Linked DNA regions of Homo sapiens. The protein of the gene in region 1 interacts with the protein of each later gene in a biochemical or structural test. Each region holds a gene or a part of one and is shown in the gene's direction. Other genes may lie near its edges.

Region 1 (8,208 bases):
TTTCTCTTTAATTATTTTTCTTTTAAAGATTTTTTTTAACGCAGTATTTAATGCATGCAGAAAAGTATAAAGCAAAAATGTAACAAATGCTCACTTACCGAGTTTTAAGAAGTGTAAAACATGGCAGCACAGTTAAAACTTAAAGGAGGAAGTAGCTATTGTGTCATTATTATCTTATCTTTGCTCTTCCTCATTTCTAAATGTTAAAGAATTAACAGTCTACTTGGGAAAATAATGAAGTTATATACAATTTGAAGTGTCAAAAATAAATCCATAGGTGAATATATACCTGATCTTGAATTGGGGAAGAACTTCCAAATAATAAAAGCAAAGAAAACAAAGCCAAAGATCAACTACCCCAAAAGTAAAGCCTTGTAAATTTAAAAAACACCATGTATTTCCAAAATATATGAGAAAGATGAGTTAGTATCTTCACATACGAAAAGTTCTTATAAATCATTGAGAAAAAAGATTGCCTCATCCCCATACAAAATTAATGAGGCGCATGCAGGCATTATTATGGAAATAGCTGTTAAATGTAAAAAAAAGTGATCAGCCTGATTACAGTAGTCCCCCTTTATCTCAAGGGATATGTAGTCCAAGACCCCCAGTGGATGCCTGGAATCACGAATAGTACTGGACCGTACACATACAATTTTTTAAAATCTGATAATGAAGACCATTAGTAAGTGACTAACAAGCATGGATATGCTGGACAAAGGGATGACTCACATCCCAGGCAGGACAGAGTGGGATGGCACAAGATGTCATCACGCTGTTTACAACGTTGGGCAGTTTAAAACTTCTAAGTTGTTTTGAGCTTTTCTATTTAATGTTTTCAGACTGTGGTTCACCACTGGTAACTTGAAACCATGGAAAGTGAAGACAAGGATATGGGGGGACTACTGTATTAAGAAATTAGCATTAAATTAAAACTATAACATAAAACCATTTTTCACCTGCCAAACTGGCACGGGTTAAGAAACGAAATGGGTACTTTTGTGGACTGCTGGTAGAACTCCAAATTAAATGCACTCTTTCCAAAGCATCTTTGACAATAAGTTTCGCAGGCCTGAACTATATCCCTGTTAATGGTGGAGACAGTCAAGCAACAGGCAATTACAGTACTATGTAAAATGCTGTTTATAATATAGGGATGAACAGAGCGCTTGGGGAAACGAGGGAAGCATGGAGAATTCTGCCTGAGGACATTAAGAAAGATCTCAAACAATGGAGGATGGATAATTTTACAAGCAGACAAATAAGGGAAAATCAGTTCCAAGCAAAATGTCATGTGCAGAGGTACAAAGTCATCAGAATTACTTATGTATTTGTAATTTTGTGTTGGCTTGGCGTTGGGAGAAGGCAAGGGTAGGGAGTGGTAAAAGATGATGTGACACTAGAGAGAAAGTCTGAACCCAACTGAAAAGCTCCATGTACACTGTGCTCAGGAGTTTTGATTTATAAGTAGAAGTCTTTCAGTAAGGGATTGGTATTCAGGCTTAATGAGATCCTGAACTGAGTACTTGACAATGAAAACGAAGAAAATAAACCTGGATTTGGAAAGATTTCTTCAGTTGAAATAACTAGAATTAGATGACTGATTCGAAGGGATGAGGGAGAGGGTTGTAAGGGAAGTCTCGTCATACACTACAGTCGCATCTAGCGATTAGACTTAAATTTGAGATTGTGACACTGGCACACACTTCAAAGGTTTTGAAAGGGTATGCAATGCAGCTTTCTCCTAACCTATGCTAAAGCTGAGGCTTGGATGCCCTGGAAGGCCTGCTGATCACAATCTCCCAAGCAGTAGAGCTGAAACTATGGCTATAAGTTACATTATATATAAGTCTAGAGAAGTGAGTGTGTGCCAGGTTGCGATATGTGTTCAGTGAGTAATTATATCTGTTTGTGTGTTTTCTCAAATGTTGTGCTGTGTTTAGCACATTTTAAAAGAGTAATTTGAGTCGCTGTGTTTATTTTAAATTAGAGTAATCATCCATTAACCTATTCTGTCAGTGTTTCTCAAAGTTAACCAGCTGTATCAGAAATCGCCTCAGGTTTTTTATTTGAAAATGCAAATATTTGGGCCCTTTTCAGTCATATCTAAATCTCTTGGAATGAGGCCTTATAAAGAGCAGTAGGTAAATCATATACACTAAAGTTTCTTACTTTAGAAGTGTGTAAATAAGAACCACTGACAATAGTGATTACAGGTGAGACTTTGGGGACCAGATGAGTTCCTTGGCACAAGTTGATTCATGAACACCACAGTTTTAAAAATGAAAAAGTTACTGCTTTTTTTTATTATTTATTTATTTTTATTTTTATTTATTTATTAATTTTTTGAGACGAAGTCTCACTCTTGTTCCCCAGGCTGGAGTGCAATGGCACGATCTCGGCTCACTACAACTTCCGCCTCCTGGATTCAAGTGACTCTCCTGCCTCAGCCTCCTGAGTAGCTGTGATTACAGGCACCTGCCACCATGCCCAGCTAATTTTTGTATTTTTAGTAGAGACATGGTTTCACCATGTTGGCCAGGCTGGTCTTGAACTCCTCACCTCAGGTGATCTGCCCGCCTCAGCCTCCCAAAGTGCTGGGATTACAGACGTGAGCCACCGCATCTGGCCAGGTGGCTATTTTTAAAAACAAAGATGATAGCAATATTACAGTTTAGGTTATTGAATTAGAAAGAAAAGACCACATATATCCCAACTCTAAGTCCAATTTAGCCAAGATGACTTGCTAATGCTACTTATGTACCTGTGGCTTTTCCCTTGTCCCTAGTTTTTCATATGCAGGACAAAGCTCTTGGTGACACATTGAGCAGGCAGGGTCCTACTGGAATTCAGAAAGCTGCTTTCTTATTCTATTACTCCCTTTTTACCCCATGGTTTTTGGTGCTATGATGGAAAAACTGAGCTGACAATCTGACCACTTTGGTGAAGGGGAACATTGACAAATGTGCTTTCATAATTCTCAAATCAAACTGGGCATCAGGATGGTTATGTGTTTATCTGGGGTATGGGAGTGAGGAGGGAGAAGCAGATTGTTTCTTATTATCCCAAATATGATCGCTGTCTTCAAATATCTGGAAAGTGTACTTGGCCAACATGATTATATGCATTTATATATAAAGGGCAAGGCTTCCCTATGTGCGTCCGTCTTAATTTTAATCTTGTTGTTATCCATGAAGGGAAAATTAAAATGCTTACAAGCACATTCAAAGTATGATTTCTAAGTCATAACATTAAGTTACAGTTTCTAAAGAGTGTTAGAGTATAAATTTACAAACCTCCTATTGCAGATTGCTTGATTTGGCATTTAAAGACTGGGATTGGTCATTTGATGATGTTGATGGTGGTGGTGATGATGATGACGATGTTTTTGATTTCTGAAGAAATAAATGGGGTAAATCAAAAAATGAAAAATCAGTTATTTTAGTACTTCAACGTAGTGCATGTGGTTTGCCACTTGGGCTTTCATTATTTTTTATTTTTGAAACTTGTTTTTAATAGTATATAGTTAAAAGTAGTTTTCGAAAAGTTGCTAACTGAAATTTACATGTTAAGTGTAAAAGTGAAATGCTATGTTCAGATTCTTTATTGGCTATAAATTTTTAGTACAGTTAGAATTTATCTTAGGAATGAGATGTAGAAATCACAAAAGGAGTTAATTCTGATACGTTCTGTTCATTCCAAAGAAGCCATATTCAGAAGAGAAGTAAAATTTACAACGTTTTCAAGTTCCTACAGCTATATTAGTTTGTGAACATAGCATGAGATTCCTTTCTCCATCTCTCTCCTTTTATTTCCAACTTGCAAGAATTGAAAGCATAAAAACTTTATAAGTCTAATAAGTGCTGTGAAATAGCTATTTCTGATTTGGCATTTTTGTGTGTGGTGCTGTGAAATGTTTGCTTTGTGAGAATTTAATGTTACCCTTGCTGAAGAATGTCAGTGATACGCTGTGAGAATTGTGCTTTTAGAAAATGTAAAATAGTTTGGTTAATAGTGGCTAAAGGAGATTTGAATGAAAGTTGAGCCTCAAGTTAAACCTTTTACATAGAAGGATTTAAAAGAAATAATGTGTGTTTTAGTCTAAGTAAGCAAGTTGCAAAACATAAATCAGGTAGTACTGGTATCTATTTATAATCAGATTTCATAGAGTAGCTTGTATATATTTACTACAACAATGTAGTTGGTCCTATCTTATAGAAAAACAAAATGTGGCTTAGGGTTGAACAGCCAAGTAGAACCTGATCAATAGGCCCATTTCCCTTTCAGCTACATGAGGCAGCTGGCAGTTAAACCCCAAATCAAACTTTTATCTTCTAAGTTATTCTGTGGTATATTGTTTAACCCTAATAGCTTGTTAACCATATTAAAATGTGTGTGTAATGTGTGTAGCTAATATTCCAAAATCCCAAGTTGTTTTGGGAAAGAATATAATTGCATGTTGTACCTATAGGAAAAGTAATACAGTAAGTATGTTTATGCATGATTTTAGTGTTAAAAAATATAGTAGCTGGAAGACTATATAGTTTAATAATGTGAATGGAATGCTTTTTCTAGGAATTTAACACTCTTAAATTATTTCACTGTATCAACTAACTTTATTTTTCCTTTCTTTTCAGCTAACTGCCTTCTATGAAAGCAGTCATTATTCAAGGTGATCGTATTCTTCCAGTGAAAACAAGACTGAAATATGATGGCCCAAAATTTATTAAAAAGCTATATTTTCCTGAGAGACTGATACATACACTCATACATATATGTGTTCCCCTTTTCCCTGTAATATAAATTACAAATCTGGGCTCCTTTGAAGCAACAGGTTGAACCAACAATGATTGGTTGATAGACTAAGGATATATGCAACTCTTCCAGACTTTTCCATAAAGCTCTCTCGGCAGTCGCTCACACTACAATGCACACAAGGATTGAGAAGAGTTAAAGGCTAAAGAAAACATCTTTTCTAGCTTCAACAGAGAGGTTTCACCAGCACATTTACCAGAAGAATCTGGGAATGGATTCCACTACAGTGATATTGACTGCATCTTTAAGAAGTGACCATTATACTGTGTATATATATATAAACACACACACATATATATATATATATATAGTACTCTAATACTGCAAGAAGGTTTTTTAAACTTCCCACTTTATTTTTTATACACATTAATCAGATATCATTACTTGCTGCAGTTGCAACTATGCACTTGTATAAAGCCATAATGTTGGAGTTTATATCACTCATTCCTGTGTACCTGATGGAAGTTGCATGTTCATGTTTAAGCAGTTACTGTAACAAGAAGTTTAAAGTTAATTATATCAGTTTCCTAATGCTTCATGATAGGCAACTTTACCCATTTTGAATGCCTTAATTTAATTTTTTTCAAAGTCTCAGCCCTGTCTGTATTAAAAAACAAAAAAAGCGTTTACCAGCTCTTAGGATGTAAACTAGCTTTGTGGAAGATAAATCGTGCACTATTTTTACACATAAATAGTTATATCAATGTCAGCCTATTTTGATTAACAAATGTTTTTAAAGTATTATTGGTTATAGAAACAATAATGGATGGTGTTGGAACTAATATATCCTTGATGTCTGTCTATTATTCATTCAACTCTTTTTACAGACCTCAGTATTAGTCTGTGACTACAAAATATTTTATTTGCTTTAAATTTGCTGGCTACCCTAGATGTGTTTTTATTCCTGGTAAAGACATTTGTGATTACATTTTCACACTTAAGATTCAAAATTTTTCCCAAATATAAAGAAAACTAAGACAGACTGTAGATGCATTTTAAATATTTAAATATGATCCTCAGACATGCAGCTGTGTGTGGCAGTATTTTAGTACCGGGTTAAGAAAACTGGCAACTGGGAAGAAGTGGCCTCAAAGGCACTTAATTTGATTTTTATTTTTTAAATGCTGTCAAAGTTACAGTTTACGCAGGACATTCTTGCCGTATTCTCATGATCCCAGATAAGTGTGTGTTTTATACTGCAACAATATGCAGCAATGGTAAGCGTAAAGTTTTTTTTTTGTTTTTGTTTTTTTTTATATTATGAAGTCTTTTAACAGTCTCTCTTTATATAAATACACAGAGTTTGGTATGATATTTAAATACATCATCTGGCCAGGCATGGTGGCTTACGCCTGTAATCCTAGCACTTTGGGAGGCCAAGACGGGCGGATCACCTGAGGTGAGGAGTTCAAGACCAGCCTGCCCAACATAGTGAAACTCCGTCTCTACCAATATACAAAAATTAGCCGGGCATGATGGTGGTGGCCTGTAATCCCAGCTACTTGGGAGGCTGAGACAGGAGAATCGCTTGAACCCAGGAGACGGTGGTTGCAGTGAGCGAAGATCGAGCCACTGCACTCCAGCCTGGGCAGCTGAACAAGACTCCGTCTCAAAAAAAAAAAAAAAAAAAAGTCATCTAATATTTCGATGAAGGAAATAGACATTTTTCATTGATTCCCTCTGATGTCAGTTAGAGATATTTAAAAAGTTAGATCCCCATAATAGATACTATTGTGGAAACTGAAGAGTAGCTACTGGCCTACTGATAGACTGAAACTGGTTTTGTTATTCTTAACGTTCTCCAGTCTGCACTCTGCTGTGCTGTCTGTGCTCAGACTAGACGTGCATGCCGTTTCCTTTGCAGGTGTGTTCTGCAGCTCTGGTTTTGGGGGATAGCTCTTTTTTAAGTAAGATTAAAAAATGAAAAATATATAAATTTATATAGAATAAATATTTCCATTCATTAGAGTTGTTAAAAGGAGACTGAATTAATATTTTATATAAAGATTTTGTTACATTATGGGAGGTTCTATCCTATTCTGAATTGGAGAGTATATATATATATATATATATATATATATTTTTAATAAACTTTATTAAGGTGAAATAATTTCAAGTTTACATATGAGTAACTGAAATATTTGAGTAAAAAAGGCAAAAGTTTAAATTTGGAATGCTGTATATATTAGAGAATATGGGGAATCATGGTGTGACCAACTGTACAAGGAAGATTCATATGAAGGTCTTAGGGGAAAAAGATAATTCTGAAGGGTGAAAAAAAAATCTCTCCCATGGAGATTCTTCACATTATATGGTTTGACATAAGGGTTTATAAGGTTGTTTGTCCAACTAATGAAAATGCGCTTAATAAAAAATTCTGACCTTGGGTAAGAATTCGCTTTTTACCGCATTGCCGCTTTCATGTACATACATGAGTGCATGCACCTATCAATGTGTTTTCTTCCCAACACTTATTAAATATAAAACAACCTGATTTTGTGCTCGTTTCTCGTTTTTCTTGAGGCCCTGAAGCTTCCAAGATAAATATAAGACTAAAATTTGCTTGTTCCTTCACACCTGATTTCTCCTAGAACCATAAATACCTCCTATGGGGAACTAAGAAATCATGAATACTGGGATTTTCTTATTGGATTTTTTACTTTTGTTTTGTGGGGATAACGAGACAGAAGTGAAAGGAAAACTGGTGCCGGTATTACTGTTGAAATTAATGTACAGTGAATGTTTTTAAAGTATTAATTTTAAAAAACCATGTTCTCTAGAAACAAGTTTTAAAAATCTATATGAAAGTTTTAAAATGTTCCAGCTAACTAATGGATAAGCATACCAGTAAAGCCAAAGTAAAGGTTAGTGCCTTTAAAACTAACCTGTGTTAGAGTTACATGAATCTGGCTCTAAAGTATCTATTTTGCATCCATTTATATATAGATCTTAAACAGAAATACTCTAGGTTGCCACACCACAGTTTTAAGAAGTTATGCTGCTGCTGTTACTCTCTTCTAGGATTCTGGTGGTAAAGTAGAGAAACTCGGACACTATATTAACCTTACTGAAACATGCTTTAAATCGTGTCTAAAATCTGATTTGAGCAAGTCACTGCCGAGCTTCTGAGTCTGCATTGACACTGCTACTGACTCACCTCTCCTTCCCTGGAATAAGGCTTCAGCTTCCCTATGCTGTGAAGACACCATTTGTAAGCACTTTGAACATAAGCACTGTGTGACAGCGCTGGATATCATGCTTGGGGGGGGGCCTCTCCCTGACTCCCATCCCCATAATAATGAGTTTTGTTTGGAATTGTAATAAGTAATGAACTGCATGGTTTAGAAAATTATAAATATTTGATCAGCTGTCCTCTCTGAAAAAAATTGCACC
Region 2 (8,561 bases), on another chromosome or scaffold:
CGATCGGGGACTTAAGTTTCCGGGGCGCCGCCAGACTGGGATGAGGGTGGCGCCACGGGCAGGCGAGGCTGGGGTGGGGGTCCCCAGCGTCTGGTCGAGCTTGACTGAAAGAGTCCCGGGATTTGGGCGGAGCAGGGGCCCGCGCGCTTACCTCGTCCCATTTGATGAACTTACTCCCGCGCCGCAGGGTCTCCACCACGGTGGGCGGCTCCAACTGCAGCGCGTGGACGCCGGGCTGGGCGCCCGCCATGGCCCGGCCAGGGGCGGGTCGGGGACCCACGGAGCCCTGACGGGGACCGACGGCGCCGCTGCTCCCACCGCGCGGCCCGCTCCGGCCCCGCGGCGTCAGTGCCCGCCCGCCCGCCAGTCTGTCCCGGACCGACCAGAGCCTCGGCGGGGCCCGGGCGGGGCGGGGACGGGGCGGGGCCTCCCGGGCCCCGCCCCCTCCCACCGCGTCGGCTCCCCCTGGCGGCCGGGGCGGCGACTGCAGCCGGAGCGGGGATTGGGGCAGGGGCACGCGGACGGGTCGGGGGCTTTGCTGCGGGGCTCAGCAGAACCTGATTCTTCAGGCCTGTGGTGGAAGGAGGGCGCTGGGGGCCGAAGTGGCTGTTGGGGAGCAGCTGGAGGGACTGGGTGTAGAGGGCGCTGCTTAAGGCGGTCCGGGATCAGCCCACTGAGGTTTCCGAGCGACTAGGGCTGCAGTACCAGCGGAGGGCTAGACTTGGGCCGGGGGGTCGCTGCACAGCCCTGTCGCCCACCCTCTTCTGCCGCACTTAGCTGAATGCAGGAAAAGCTTCTTCCGCCCCCCTCTGCCCTGGCTTCGCCTCACCCACTCTTATGCCGCGCGGTCCCCCCTCCCTGGGAGCACTTAGCCGGCTAATGGACCTCCCGCCGGCAGGCACCCCTCCCCCGTCCCTAGCCCAGGGAGGCCGGGCGCCTGCCACCTCCTTTAAGGACCCAAGCATCCTGGTCTTCGAGAGTGAGCCCTAGAACAGCCCCCTTCTTGTTGCTGCAGACTCCCATGACTGGAACCTGACTGTGAGCCTCTTGGCTGGGAACCGCGGGGGGAACGCTGTTGTCTGCCCAGAGGGGTCAGAAGCTTTGTGGATGTCCCCAGACAGGAGGGTTGAGGAGGGGCTCTGCAGTGCCTGGCCCACAGCAGGTGCCCTGAAATCTGCGTTCCAGAGATGGGAGCGGGGAAGGCGCATGGGCAATGGGATGGGTGGGGGCTGCAGCCCCTCCCGCAGGGCTTAGCTGGTGGGGGGGGTTCCTGCCTGGGGGCCCCTGTGGGAGCCCCCCCAATACAGAGGCAGTAACAGCAGCAGGTTTAAAGTAGAACTCATCCAGAGGGGCCAGCCAAGTCACCTAGAAACCCAGAAAGAGATGCAGCTGGCTCTGGGGGAGGAGGGGTCAGCAAAGGAGGAGCTCCCCTGCAGGCCCCTTTGCCCCAGGCTCTGAGACCTCCACAAGGAGCCCTGCCTGGCCCTGGCCTTCCTCCACACCCCGCCAAGTTCTCCATCAACTCTAACCTGGCGGATCTCCTCGCTCTCAGCCCTGGCCCTGTGGGGTGTGATTATGATCTCCACTTGAGGCCCAGAGAGGGGAAGGGACTTGCCCAAGGTCACACAGCTTCTTAGGAGGATTTCAACCCTCCGACTTCCTGAGGCCCAGGAGCCTCTAGACCTCATTGGGAAAACAGAACCATGCAAGGTGGAGCTTGGCCTCTGCCCTCACAGGCTGGAGTTCAAATCCGGCTCTTGCTAGCAGCCTCTTGCTAGTGGCAGAACCTAGTCTCTCTAGGTGCCTCAGTCACCTTGTCCAGAACCTAAAGGTTGTTGTATACATAAGCAAATGGGTGGGAGATGCCAAATTGACATGAGTAGCTGGAAGCTGTGGGTATACCAGGGAGGGAGGAAAGGGCATAGGTCAGCTCTGGGGCAGTGGAACCTCCAGCTTGTGCCAGGGCTAGCAAAGCCTGGAGCCAAGGCCTGAGCTTAGGGGATCTGAGCTGTGGGCCCTAGGCCTTGTGCAAGCGTACTTTAGAGAAGCATTGGGCAGCAGCTCCTTGTGGAAAAAAACAGGATGGGCACCTGTTTCCTGGGCTTAAGCCTCTCTCCTCCCCCAACCCTGTGTCTCTGGAGGCCAGGGCAGCCCCCATTACAGGGCTCCTTCCTTCCCAGACACTTTCTTCCATCCTTGGTAATGGTAATAGGGTATCTCAGCAGGCAGTAATGGTGAAGGCAGGCAGCCTTTCCGGACTCTACCCTTGATTGAAGGAGCGGTCTTGACCCACAGGACCCTCCCCAGAGCCTCTGCTTCAAGGATGCACTCTAATGGAGGGGGGCTGGGGCCCTGGAAGGGGTAGGGCTGGGGAGGCCACAGACTGAGGCTAGAAGGAGGAGGAGCAGTGGTACACTCCAGTCCCAGTAGGGCTCAGGCAGGAGGGCCAGGGCTGGGCATGGGCCCCCAACCACAGGAGGTCAGGACCATAAGCCCCCTGAAGAGGCTCTGAGCAGGTAAGTGACTTGCATACAGCCTCTCAGCCCATGGGGCAGAGCCAGGATTTGAACCCAGTATTTCTACTCCAAGGCTAAGGTTCTGTGGCCCAGCTTCCAAGAAGGTGGCAGGCCAGCATGCCCACCTGCACCAAGTGGTCTCGGGTGGATAGCCATGGGAACTGGACAGGAATCTGGGTGTGCCTGGGCATGGCGCGGTGGGGGGAAGAGGGAGAGTCAGAAAGAATGCCTGACCTGTGGACACGGACATGGCTGGAGACCTTCACACCAACCCTGAGGGAGGACAGACAGAAAGGTCAGGGCTCAGGGTCACAGCATCTTGGGGGCAGAGCTAGGGCTGGGGGTCTTCATGGCCTGCAGGCCCCACTTCCACAGAAGCTGTTGGGCATTAGGGGCTGTTTGAGGGTCTTCCCCCTTTAATCTGTGTGCACCCTCAAGGTACAAACAATGCTTGGGTTCAGAGGGAGCTGGCCTGGCCTGGTGGGGTGTGGTGGGGAATTTGGACTGGGGTAAAGTGATCCTCCTATCAGGCCAGGCTTAGGGCAGGAGGCCAGGCCACGGATAGGGCTCCCGGTGGAGAGGGTGGATCCTACCTAATCCGCAAGAGCGAGGGTCAGCCCTTCCTCGGCACCCAGACTGGCTGAAGGGAGGCTGAGGCCGGAGGAGGGGCACGGGAAGGGGAGGGGTCAGCTCACTCTACCCTTCCCTGAACTGAGCCCTGTGAGCCCATTGCCTTCACAATGCCCAGCCTCTGTCTTCTCTTGGTCTCTTCTCTCTGACTATAGGGCAAAGGAGGAGCCCAACATCCTGGGTTGGAGTTTGGATGCAGCCCCAGCTGTGTGACCCCGGGGCCAATCCCAATCCATCTCTGAACCCCACCCGCTGCAGAGGGCTTCCCCCCACAACATCCAAAGAGTGTCTTTGAGGGGCTGGAGCAGAAACATTGCCTCTCAGATCCAAGACCCTGTTTGGGGTGGCACAAGGTGAGCCTGCCTTCCACAGAAACATCCCCCGGGAGCTGCGCAGCCTTATTGGGTGGTGTCTACAGGGTAGTGAGGAGGTTGAGTAGAGACTTCGTGTCAGGGGGTTTGAGCCACACAGCCTGGGTTCAAAGTCTCGTCTCCCGTTTTATCTAGCAGTGCGACTTAATTAACCTCTGTGGTGTAGTAATTGAACTTTCCACGAATTTTCCTATTTAATCTTTGTTACAGCCTTCTGAGGAAATGCAGGCACAGAGGAAGACATTCATTCTTTCAAAATCATTTGTTCAACCAATGCAGCGGCCTACTACGAGTGTGACATAGTTCTAGGTGCTGGAGTTCAGCGGGAGCCAGGTAATTTGCCTAATAGCAGTGGATTTGAAGACTGTTCAAGCCTGGTAGCACCAGCAGACCAGGTCGGCGCAGGCCTCAGCCCCGTGGCACTCACAATCTAGAAGTGGGAGACAGACAATACACGAATGAATGAGACCATTTAAAGATGCAGAAAATAAAATAGAGGGAGGGAATGGGATGCGCCGTCGGCTTATTGGAGGTGGGCCAGGGCTATGTGAAGGACCGAGGAGCCGCAGGGCGGGGGTGCAGGAGCCCCGGCACGGCGCCCTCTCTGCGGAGCCGACTGGGCGGCGGTCCCGACGCACGCTCCTAGGGTCAGCCGCAATTACCGCCTTTATTATTATAAGTCGCGGCCCCCGCACTGCCCAGCTCTTTGCGCCTTAGTTTCCCCCTCTGTGCGCACTCGGGTCGCGAGGCGCAGAGGACGCCCCAAACAACTTTGCGCTTCCCGGCCTGGCCGCAGGGCGGGGGAGGGGCGGCGCCGGGAGCGGACTCCGTTTCCCACAAGCCCGAGCCTCGCGCCATCTTGCCGGTGGGCGGTGGCTGCCCGGGGTTGGCCGTTTGGGCCGGCCGGGTGCCACCGCTCACCCCCAGCCCCGGCTTCTTCCGCTGGGGGCGTGGGACCTGCTACTCGGAGAGTCTAGGGACCCGGACAGCTCCTGCCCGCCTTCTCCACTCTTCCTTTCCCAGGAGCCCAGTCCACGTGTCGGTCCGTGCGGAGGAGCCCGTTCGCTCCTCGCTGGCCGAGGGCTGGAGGACCTGGACATCGGGGACCGCAGCGTCTCCTCACCAGACTCCCTGTCTGCACACGATGTCCACTCCCCTGCATTCTCAGATAGCCCCTATTCTCAGATGGCCTCAATGAGGACAGAATGAGGAAGGGTCCAATGAAGACTAGGGTCCTGGCGTGAGCGCAAATCGTCGTCCTGAGCGCTTAGAACGCCTGGGTTTGGGACTGGAAGGTTGCGTTTGGGGAGTACGGACAGCTAGGCCACCCCCTGCCGAATAGACCCTCCCCTACCCCTGCCCGGGGGCGGAGTAGGGGAGAGGGGCCTGTAGAGGGGCTGGCCCTTTAAGGGGGTGTGGTCGGGGGGCGGAGGAAGAGCGAGACAGAGAAAGCGCTTCGGCGGCTGCAGCTCGGGCGGCGGCCGCGGGGGACAAAGGGCGGGCGGATCGGCGGGGAGGGGGCGGGGCGCGGCCAGGCCAAGCCCGGGGGCTCCGCATGCTGCAGCTGCCCCCGGGCGCCCCCGCCGCCGCCCTCGCCGCGGAGCCGCGCGGAGCGGAGCCGGCGAGCTAACCCGAGCCAGCCGGCGGGCGTCCCGGAGGCGGTGGCGCAGGGAGGGGCCCGACGCTCGCACGTGGCCCCGGCGGCCGCCATGGCGGACAGCGGCACCGCGGGGGGCGCGGCGTTGGCGGCCCCGGCCCCCGGGCCGGGCAGTGGCGGCCCAGGACCACGCGTCTACTTTCAGAGCCCCCCCGGGGCCGCAGGAGAGGGCCCGGGCGGGGCGGACGATGAGGGCCCAGTGAGGCGCCAAGGGAAGGTCACCGTCAAGTATGACCGCAAGGAGCTACGGAAGCGCCTCAACCTAGAGGAGTGGATCCTGGAGCAGCTCACGCGCCTCTACGACTGCCAGGTGTGTTCCCACCCCGCGCCGACACCCCAAAATCGGTCTCGCGCCGGTCCGCCTGGCAGCTCCACTGTGAGCTCGCCTGTCACTGGAGTCAAAGGGCGCTTTGCTTCCCCGCGCGCTCCCCTCCCCTCTGCACTCCCGCCCCCAATATATACTCTTTCTTGCCTGACCTAAGTCACTTCTGCCTTCTCCGTTGCCTCGGACCCTGCCCCCCATCATGCCACTCCCCAGGTCAAGCCTAGTGTCCTCCAGACGCCTCAAGGGGTAGCCTGAGCCTTGGGCAAGAGGCAAGGGGGCTATCCTGGGCTGGCAGCGGCAGGAGGTCTCACCGCCTGGTGCCCGCTGGGTTAGACTGTGGTTACAAGGTGCTGGTCTGGTAGGACGGCTGCGGCTGGGCTGTTCTGTGGGCTAGCCTGGAGCTCCATCTTGGCGTGCGTGCAGGCTAGCCCGCTTTCTGGGCTCTGCTTCTCCACCCCCATGACTCCCTGGTTGTTCAGACGGTGACTCAGGCCCCGGGGGGCAGGGTGGAGGAGTGGGTTTGCCCGGTGCTGCCTGCCTACCCTAGCCCAGCCCTGGAATGCAGCTGACTACAAACAGGATAGGGGCTTCCTGGGGAGGGTGTGGCAGGGTGGTGGGCATCCCCTCCCTCACCAAAGCATGGGCTCTTTGTTTCCTCTTTGCCAGGCCTGGGTCCTTCCCAGTGACCCCTCAGCCTTCACTTCCTCCTCACTCCCGGGGAGCTGTGACAGGTGTTTGGGGGAGGGGAGGGGGGTATGATAAGCTGGGACAGCTGCACCCACCGGTGCTCTGGTGAGATGGGGGGCCCGGATGTTGGGGAGACACATCTGCTGGGTTCCCAGCCCAAGGTCCCCAACCCTGGCTGTCTGGCCTTGTCTGTCACCCCCCGTGCCCACTGGCAGGGACAGGAAGCTCCCCCCCCCACCCCGCTTTGGGCAGTTTGCCTTGGCACGGGCCTGATCTGTTTTCCTCCCCAGAGCAGCTGCTGTTCTGTCTGCTGGGCAGAGGGCTGGGTTCCTCCGAGGTAGGCAGGGGCCTCAACCCAGAGCCCCTCTCACACCCTCTCTCCAACTCAGGCTTATGTCTCTCCCTCCTCCCCCACCCCCACCCCAGGAAGAGGAGATCCCAGAACTGGAGATTGACGTGGATGAGCTCCTGGACATGGAGAGTGACGATGCCCGGGCTGCCAGGGTCAAGGTGAGGGGGCTGGGGGGCGATGGGTTGCCTGAGGCACTGCCCCGGGAAAGTGAGGCTGTGGAGCCAGGCCCTCAAGCCCCAGCTCCTGCCTCAACAGAATGGGGCCAATGCCTAGCTGTGAGGTTGTTGTGGCATCTCCTGTGCCTCAGGGTGGCCCCAGTCTCTTGGAAGTGGGTATAGGCGAGCTCCAGGCCCCCACTCCTGAGGACTCACTTATCCTTCCTCCCCCATCCTCTGCTAGGAGCTGCTGGTTGACTGTTACAAACCCACAGAGGTAAGAGATTTCCTGGGGGGCTGGCGGGGGTGGCAGGGTGAGGGGAGCCCGGCTCCTGTCATCTTGGGGTCTGGTCTCCTTAATGTTTACCCTCCCACCCCATCCAGGCCTTCATTTCTGGCCTGCTGGACAAGATCCGGGGCATGCAGAAGCTGAGCACACCCCAGAAGAAGTGACGGTCCCCGACCCAGGAGAACGGTGGCTCCCACAGGACAATCGCTGCCCCCCAACCTCGTAGCAACAGCAATACCGGGGGACCCTGCGGCCAGGCCTGGTGCCATGAGCAGGGCTCCTCGTGCCCCTGGCCCAGGGGTCTCTTCCCCTGCCCCCTCAGTTTTCCACTTTTGGGGTTTTTTATTGTTATTAAACTGATGGGACTTTTTGTGTTTTTATATTGACTCTGCGGCGCGGGCCCTTTAATAAAGCTAGGATACGCCTTTGGTGCAGCTAACAGGCTCGGCTGGTCTCTTTTAGGGGGGCACACTGCTCTTTGACTTCTGCCAGCTCAGCTTCTCCCCAGGTGACCACAGGCCTTCCTAAGGGCCACGTAGCCATGACGATAGCCCAGTGCTGGCTCCCAGACCAGGAGTTGAAAGTGGCTGGGGAGCTGTGGGGGTGGGGGGAGCAGTATTGCTGTTGGCAGGCAGGAACACTCCTTTCTCTCTGGGCAAGGGCCACCATGTCATTGAGCCTAGACCCCCAAGGCTCCACAGTCGGGAAAGGAGAAGGTGGTGGGGTATGCTGGAGCTGAGGTCTCTGAGTCTCTCAGGGCCCACAAACACACACAGGCTTACTCCTTGGGCTTTTAAGTGTTTTTTTGTTTGTTTTTGTTTTTTGTTTTTTTTTTGGAACAGTCTGGTCCCTGATGGGGGCCTCTCCCCCTGCCCCTCCCCAGTCTGGTTACAGCTCAGTTCGTCGCTCTATTTTGAGCAGCTCCACCTCGAACACCAGGGTTGCACCACCTGTAGGGGAGAAGGGGAGTCAAAATGCCAACCAGGGCCACAGGGAGGTGGGCTGGCTGCAGGTGATGGGAGGTATCAAAAGGTTTACTACCTGGAATCTTTGGGGGAGCTCCCCGCTCTCCATACCCTGTTGAAGATGCACAAAGAAACAGTCAGTGATGGCCAAGCTCCCTTCCAGTGTGGGCAAAGGGAGAGTGTTCCGCCCCTCTCAGCAAGAAGGCCAGAAATGGAGAAGGGTAATGGAGATGGGAAGGGGGTGCCAAAGGCCTGGCAAGGGCAGAGTGGGGCCACTACAGCTGAGTGCTTCAATGATCTTGCCCTGTACTCACTGCTAGACACAGCCAAACTTGGAGGAGGCATGTATTGTAATGAATGGATACGGTGAAGACCAATGAAAAGCTGAAGCAGCTTTCACCCTTCCCAGTCACACACCCCAAACTCGCTCTGCACCCTCAGGAGGGGCCTCTTACCTAGCTCGGATGGGATCACCAGCTTGCGCTTTTCCCCCTCACACATCCTGCAGGAAGACACATGCTCAGCCCATGGCAGCACCCAGGGCCCTTGTCTTGTATCCCTGGGGCTTGCCTCCCACAGCTTACCTCCTGGGCGGTGGCCATGCACGCCCCCAC
Region 3 (7,920 bases), on another chromosome or scaffold:
AAAGCATCTGACAACTGGCATTTTTCATTGTCCTAGAGCTTTCGAAGGTGTCCTACGGTGACTAGTTTATTTTCTATCCATTCTGCCATCTTTGAGGACCCACACTTCTAGACAGCTATAGAGCTTATCCTTCAGCAACAGGATCTGGTAAACCTTTTTCACTGACCTGTTGTCTACCAGTGCTGTCTCACTGGTTCTGCCTGGACATTTGCAGCCCTTTATAAAATTAGTGAACAACACTGCTTGCCTACTGTATTTTGTAGTTTCTTGGGGCTATTGTAACAAAGTACCACAAACCAGGTAGCTGAAAACAACAGAAATTTCTTCTTTCCCATTTCTAGAGGATGTAAGTCCAAAATTAAGATGAGAGCAGAGCCATGCCCTCTGAGACTGAGGAGAGTCCTTCCATGCCTCTTCCTAGCTTCTGGTGGTGGCCATCAATCCATGGCAGGCCTTGGCTTGCAGCTGAATCCCTCCAGTCTGCCTCTGTCATCACACACTTCCTCGGATGTCTGTGTCTTTGCATGGTGTTGTCCTTGTGTAAGGACACTAGTCATCTAGGATGAGGGCCTGCTCTAATTCGTCTTAACTTGAATATACCTGCAAAGACTCAAATTCTGAATAAGGTCCCACTCACAGGTACAGGATAAGGACTTCAGCATGTCTTTTGGGGGGACATAATTCAACCAGTAACACCTACCGTGTACCACACGCCAAGACTACCAAACGAGGCACAGTCCCCACCTTCGAGGAACCTATAACTAACACTACCATTTAACTGCAATAAGACAGGAGAGGCAGCACACAGGAAAATGATCCTTTCTGTAGGAGCACAAAGGCATTTTAGGAAATGAAATTTGAGGTTTTAAAAGATAAGTAGGAATTCATCAAATAGAAGAAAAAAGATGAAAATAGCAAAAGGTATAAAATAGTATTAATCTTGCAAAAAGACACTGAAGTGTTCTATCTTGATCTTTTTTTTTTTTTTTAATAAGGCAGTTGTCTCTTCTCTGTCACCCAGGCTGGAGTGCAGTGGCACTGTCATAGCTCACTGTAGCCTTGAACTGCCGGGCTCAAGCGATCCTCCCACCTCAGGCTCCCGAGTAGCTAGGACTTCAGGTGTGCGCCACCGTGCCAGGCTTTTTTTTTTTTTTTTTTTTGGAGAGACAGGGTCTCACTTTATTGCCAAAGCTGGTCTTAAACTACTGGACTCAAGCAGTCCTCCCACCTTGGCCTCCCAAAGTGCTGGGATTATAGGCCTGAGCCATCATGCCCAGCCTCTCCCTTTATATGGTAGATCCAGATCTCTGAAACAGTTCTATGTCTGGAACACTTTGTGGAAAGCAAGTTCACGAGTAAGACTAGGGGTCAATACCTATTCAGTCCTCTATTTCACATCCTAAAGCAAAATATATATCTACAGCTTTACCTACAATACAATACAATACAATACAGTAATTGATGTCCATAACGATAAGTCATCCACACTAAATTAGGCTCAGTATACCCTCTAAGTACATTAGGAAGCATGTAATACATTTTTTAGGATCTTTGAAAATGACTTAAATGAATAGTTTTGCTACTGAGGATTAATCTCCATTTTTCTGGAAAATCCAGTTATACAAAACTGCTAATTTCTTTACAGTGCTAGATAACAGCAGCTAATGTTCATTTACTTCTTACTCTGCACAAAGCTGTGTTCTAAGTCCTTGGCAAATGCTCACTCATTTGTGAGCCTCATTTAATCCTCACTCTGATGTACATACTATTGCTATCACCATTTTAAAGGTGAAAAGGCTGAGTCCCAGAGAGATTAAATAACTTGCTTAGCTTTACACATCTAATAAGTGGCAGAGCCAGGACTGAAGCCCAGGCAGTGGTGCTCCAGAGCCCATGCTCCAGACTTCGGTGATACCCTATCTCTGGACTCCTTTAGATACATGAATGGTTATTATCTACATGGCATTTGTGCAGTAACCACTCAGATTTTGTTTAGACAGAGGAATAATCAAAGTGACAGTTGGTAAAAGTCTGATTTCTATCTATTGGTAACATGCTCCATTTCTCAGATGTGGATCTTGGAACCTAAAGAGGTCAATAAGAAGACTCTGCCTATCTTGATGCTTAGAGGTGTTCAGAATTCCTCCCAACAAAGAAATAAGCACACCTTGCTCTCAGTTGATTAAATCAAAAATATTTATTAATCTTCGTGTGCAAGGCACTGTGCTAGGCATTAGAGTTGTAAATAGAAGGCAGAAAGAGCAAGTCTTTAGTTGTAACTAGGGATGGAATGAAATGTACAAACTTCAAAACTGTATTTCCCTTTCAGCTGCTATGGAGGACTTGGGAGATCTTGTCTTGGTAAGAAATATATTTCTATTATTTTTTTAACCGCCAAATAGACAAACTTCTGTTTCCAGACCATATGTTCATTTTGTATTAAAATGGAACCAAGCAAAATATAAGTTTGCTAAGACTCAAAGGATTACTTAAGGCCCTAAACATGGTGTTCCCTGGAAAGCTTGGGTGGGAGTGGGAGGTATTTTCAGCATTGTTCTGGAGGATTCTGGCAAAACATCATTTACAAGTCTTAACACCTGCATTCTTATTTTTTAACATTTTTTGATGTTCTTCCTGTGGAGGTGTTATAATAGAGTAACTTCCAAATAGTTTCCATGGGTAACTATTTATGAATACCAAAGTTAATTACTATATGTTAATTTAAAAAATGTTTTAATGTACTAAGAAAAACAAAAAAGAGTTCGTGAAATGCCACACTGGAGTAGTAGTTATTTTTTTAGTGTTGGATGATATCAAAATTGAAAGCTTTTGTGTTTCAAAGAATACTATCAAAATGACAAGACTACCCATAGAATGGGAAAAAATATTTGCAATCTATATATTTGATAAGGGATTTGTATCCAGAATATAAAAAGAACTCTTACAACTCAGTAATAAAGATAGGCCGGGCGTCGTGGCTCATGCCTGTAATCTCAGCACTTTGGGAGGCCAAGGCAGAAAGATCACCTGAGTTTAGGAGTTTGAGAACAGCATGAGCAACATGGTGAAACCCCATCTCTACAAGAAATACAAAAATTAGCCAGGCATAGTGGTGCATGCCTGTAGTCCCAGCTCCTTGTGGGACTGAGGCTGGAGGACTGCCTGGGCCCAGGAGGTCAAGGCACCAGTGAACCGAGTTTACACCACTGCACTCCAGCCTAGATGACAAAGTGAGATCGTCTCTCTCAAAAGAAAAAATAATAATAATAAACAAACAACATAACTGAAAAATGGGCAAAGTATCCGAATAAACCTTTCTACATGCAAGATACACATATAGTCAGTAAGCACATGAGAAGATGCTCAACATCATCAGTCATCAGGAAATGCAAATCAGAACCACAGTGGATACCACTTGACACCAATTAGGAAGGGTATTATAAAAACATGAAAAATAACAAGTATTGGCAAGGATGTAGAGAAATTCGAACCCTCATACACTGTTGGTGGGAATGTAAAATGGTGCAGCGGCTTTGGAAAATAGTCTAGCAGTAGTTCTTCAAACAAGTAAACATTAACATATGACCCAGCAATTTCACTCCAAAGTATATACCCAAAGACTTGTATACAAATGTTTATAGCAGCATTAATCATAATAGCCAAAAAATGGAAACAGCCTAAATGTCCATCAGTTGACGAACAGATAAACACAATGTGGCATATCTATACAATGGAATATTATTTGATCATAAAAAGGAATTAAATACAGACATATGCTACAATATGTATGAACCCTGAACACATTATGCTAAGAGAAGTCAGACACACACAAAAAAATATTGTATGTTTCCGTTTATGTGATTGCTCAGAATAGGCAGATCTACAGAGACAAAGTACACTAGTGGTTGCCTATGGCAGGGGTTGATGGGGAATAGAGGATGACAGCAAAAGGGTACACTTCTTTCTGAGGTGATGAAGTGCTTTAAAATTGACTGTGGTGATGGTTGCACATATCTGTAAATATACTAAATCACTGAATGGATGAACACTTTAAATGGATGAAAGAATGAAGCCAGTGTTAAACTCTAATTCAACCATACGGTCATTTAAGATCATAATTTAACTGTCAAAAACACACACTAAAAGTCTCAGTCTTTTAATTCATTTGGAACAATTACACCAGTCTTCTGTATCAACAGAAGTCTTATTAAATATAAAATGCTGTACCCTGTCACTAGTTATTTAATAACATATTATTTTTCTGTCATGTTCCATTAGTAGCTGCTTGTCTCCTACTATACCTGTCTGACACAATATCACCAGAGCAAGCCATAGACAGCCTGCGAGACCTAAGAGGATCCGGGGCAATACAGACCATCAAGGTGAGGAGGTGGGCGGTGCTTGCTTGGTTGTGGTTGGGGTCGTTGTTACAAATACAGATTCATGTGTAACCAAAAGGTTACATATGAAAATCCAAAAGGGCAGTGAAATGAAAATCCAAAGCACTCTGTTATTCAAATACCACTTGCTTATGCTTTTAGTTTTTAAAAATTTACAAGTAAATATAATCCAGGTAGTCTAAAAAAGCACACAGGATTTCAAACAAGATAATGAAAATTTGAACTTCCTGGTTTACTTTTCCAGGATCTACCTACTTCTCAGTTTTTGCCCCAGTCCGTTTTGGGAATGGATCCTCTCACCTAGGACAATGAGATGGTTATTGTTAATACAAACTTGGTACGTTCTTGGGTAGATTCTTGGCCAAAAAAAATCTATGGAAGATCTTGTTATATCACCAAAACATTTAATAAAGACAGATGAATGACTATAATACAAAAAATGGAAAGCAGTGCTAATTATCCTTTGCAGTAGATAACTGGGGACATCTTCCACATGTACATTCCCCTAACACTTCAAAACACTGCACTAGCAATGCCAAGGATATTGCATTAATCATGTTACTGAAAAGATTCTGCAGATGTCACTTCATTTTGTAGATCTGTAAAGCTAATGTGCCTTCTTTTCAGAAGCGTGCCCTCTCAGCATTAGAATCCGCTCATCAGAGGAGTGGGCACCAAAGAATCCTGGCTGTTAGGCAGCTCCCTAGACTTGAGAGCCCATCTTCCCAGGGTTGGAGGTCTAATCCAGTGTCATTAACAGTGAATTATCATAATTACTGATAAATTCACCAAGCAACCTGATTCTTAGGGCTTAAATAAGGTCATTAACGGGACAATCCATACAAGATCCACTCCACTGTACAGGTCTGAAACAGACAACTCTCTTTATGTTAAAAATCAAACGATGCGGCCAGGCGCGGTGGCTCATGCCTATATCCTAGCACTTTGGGAGGCTGAGCTGGGTGGATCACTTAAGGCCAGGAGTTGGAGACCAGCCTGGCCAACATAACGAAACCTTGTCCCTACTAAAAATACAAAAATTAGCCAGGGTGGTTATGTGTGCCTGTAGTCCCAGCTACTTGGGAGCCTGAGGCACAAAAATCACTTGAACCTGGGAGGCAGAGGTTGCAGTGAACCGAGATCACACCACTGCACTCCAGCCTGGGCGACAAAGTGAGACCCTGTCTCAAAAAAAAAAAAAAATCAAATGATGCTTCAAATCCAAAAAGTTCACCTCTCTTCTCTTGAAAACAAACTACATGGCCATGGCCAGATGTATATATGAATATCCATATGTTTTACATCTTTAACATTGCAGATAATTAAGTCCATATTACTACAGACTCAGTTTATCACCTCAGCATTCTGTGGCAAACAGGCTTGCTGGTGTTAGCAATGCAGTTTCCACATCTCAATAAGGATATGAAATGAGATGATTGGCAGAGTAAGAATATCTTTTGGGAGGCTATTAAAACTCCAAATAAATTATTTAAAGCTTTTATTTTGCTTATCTGCTGAGATTAGCAATACAGTTTGTTTTTAAAAAATATTGTCTATGAAAATTATCCCTAGTGCATTATGTCATCACAAAAAAGCAGAAGACTAGGGCTTCTATAAATTGAGAAATGGATTTTGTTAAATATACCAGTTACTTGCTACAGAAAGTGCTCTGTCCTTCTTACCAGGGGGGAAAAATGTTAGCAAAAATAATGCCATTATGTACTGTTTTAATCTTATTTGGTCCTGTAAGTAAAGAGAGAAAGAATTTTAGACTTAAAACATATCCATCTACATTTCATTTCACCTTCTGATTTTTAGAGACTTGTAGAACAATAGTTTTTCACACTATATGGCTTTACTAAAAGATAAAACTTCCCCATGATGCAAATGCTTCCTTACCCAAAAAGATGTAGAATTGTGCTTAGCAAGTATTTTTTTTTATTCCTGATACCTGCTAATATTGTGCCCACACTGATAACTAGTTTTCTACAGTGTATTCCAATGTATCTTTACTTTTTTCAGCAATACAATTATCTTCATGAGTTTCGGGACAAATTAGCTGCACATCTATCATCAAGAGATTCACAATCAAGATCTGTATCAAGATAAAGGAATTCAAATAGCATATATATGACCATGTCTGAAATGTCAGTTCTCTAGCATAATTTGTATTGAAATGAAACCACCAGTGTTATCAACTTGAATGTAAATGTACATGTGCAGATATTCCTAAAGTTTTATTGACAAAACTCGTTGTGTCTCTTTCATTTCTTATAGGAATAGGAAAATTGGGATAGGAAAATTGGTATGCAATTTTCCTTTTAGAAATGAATTGGTTGTTCTGGTATATTCTACCTGGAGGTAATGCTGAAAACATGCATTTGGAAAAATATTTGAATGCCTATTTTTAATACTTAGTACTGCACTTTTACTTCATTTTACTGTTTGTAACCACTGGGTAGCATATGACAAAGTAGTAAGTATGAGAATTGGTATGAGTGCCCAAACTTACTTTTAAATGATGTCCCCCTCCCTCTCTATTCCTCCCAAAACTTCTTCCGCTTTTTACTTCATAGACCTCCGGAATTGAAAAGGATCCTGTGAGTCTTCCACTCGCCCCCTCCCAGTACTGGATCAGCCCCAAGGGTGTTTATTCACTATGGGCTGGAACATTTTCAGAGACAAGGAATTCACTGGTTCAGACAGCTGCTCCACCTTTTGTCCGCCCTAGGAACTACACGGAATGAGCTTAATCCTTTCACATTTATTTCATAAAGAATTTAGCTACAGATTAACAATTTCCAACTCTCTCACTCTTTCACTTCCCCCTATACTATGAAACCTATCTTTTTTCATCTTTAAATTCAACTTTGAGTTACCCAAAACAGTCATTTGGGCTGTAGACAAGGATCACACACAATGTGTCAAACAAACACACTTGTTTTAACAGTCAGTGGTTTCAGTAGGGCTTACAGTAGTCACATGGCTCTCTTGGCTACTGGTAATTACAAGTGTGAACCAATGGCAATTTGGCAATGACCACCAGGTTGCAGACTCATAGGCACTTCCACAAAAGACAAAGTTTCACTACATCAAAATTTCATTTTTAAATAATTATTCAATGACTGGCTGGGCGTCATGGCTCACGCCTGTAATCCCAGCACATTGGGAGACCAAGGTGAGCAAATCACTTTAGGTCAGGGGTTTGAGACCAGCCTGGCCAACATGACGAAACCCCATCTCTACTAAAAATACAAAAATTAGCCAGGCGTGGTGGTGCACGCCTGTAATCCCAGCTACTTGGGAGGCTGAAGTAGGAGAATCACTTGAACCCGGCGGGGCAGAGGTTGCAGTCAGCCGAACCCAGGGGACAGAGGTTGCAGTGAGCCGAGATCACACCACTGCACTCCAGCCTGGACGACAGAGAGACTCTGTCTCAAAAAAAAAAAAAATCATACAATGACTAAACATCTTATTTTGTCTCACACTACTCTTCTTGCTGCTGATTAACTGCTTGAAT

What was found.
Region 2: of the proteins of ROCK2 (region 1) and PPP1R14B, one has a biochemical effect on the other in vitro, tested with the Homo sapiens proteins (one study listed by IntAct).
Region 3: the proteins of ROCK2 (region 1) and CDKN3 form a complex in vitro, tested with the Homo sapiens proteins (one study listed by BioGRID).

What each region holds. Positions count from the first base shown.
Region 1 is NC_000002.12:11,179,870-11,188,077, reverse strand, and holds part of ROCK2 (rho-associated protein kinase 2), read left to right. Parts: intron 1-1,154; coding exon of another isoform or gene 1,155-1,206; exon of another isoform or gene 1,207-2,293; intron 2,294-3,308; coding exon of another isoform or gene 3,309-3,399; exon of another isoform or gene 3,400-3,412; intron 3,413-4,637; coding exon 4,638-4,641; 3' UTR 4,642-8,208. UniProt on the Homo sapiens protein: Protein kinase which is a key regulator of actin cytoskeleton and cell polarity.
Region 2 is NC_000011.10:64,243,339-64,251,899, reverse strand, and holds PPP1R14B (protein phosphatase 1 regulatory subunit 14B), read left to right. Parts: upstream 1-4,956; 5' UTR 4,957-5,226; coding exon 5,227-5,484; intron 5,485-5,810; exon of another isoform or gene 5,811-6,034; intron 6,035-6,612; coding exon 6,613-6,696; intron 6,697-6,937; coding exon 6,938-6,970; intron 6,971-7,077; coding exon 7,078-7,146; 3' UTR 7,147-7,421; downstream 7,422-8,561. Other genes in the region: PLCB3 (1-phosphatidylinositol 4,5-bisphosphate phosphodiesterase beta-3), read right to left, coding at 152-250; peptidyl-prolyl cis-trans isomerase FKBP2, read right to left, coding at 7,871-7,932, 8,024-8,059, 8,403-8,449. UniProt on the Homo sapiens protein: Inhibitor of PPP1CA. Has over 50-fold higher inhibitory activity when phosphorylated.
Region 3 is NC_000014.9:54,413,570-54,421,489, forward strand, and holds the end of CDKN3 (cyclin-dependent kinase inhibitor 3), read left to right. Parts: intron 1-2,329; coding exon 2,330-2,361; intron 2,362-4,278; coding exon 4,279-4,382; intron 4,383-4,644; coding exon of another isoform or gene 4,645-4,704; exon of another isoform or gene 4,705-4,737; intron 4,738-6,422; coding exon 6,423-6,509; 3' UTR 6,510-6,649; downstream 6,650-7,920. UniProt on the Homo sapiens protein: May play a role in cell cycle regulation. Dual specificity CC phosphatase active toward substrates containing either phosphotyrosine or phosphoserine residues. Dephosphorylates CDK2 at 'Thr-160' in a cyclin-dependent manner.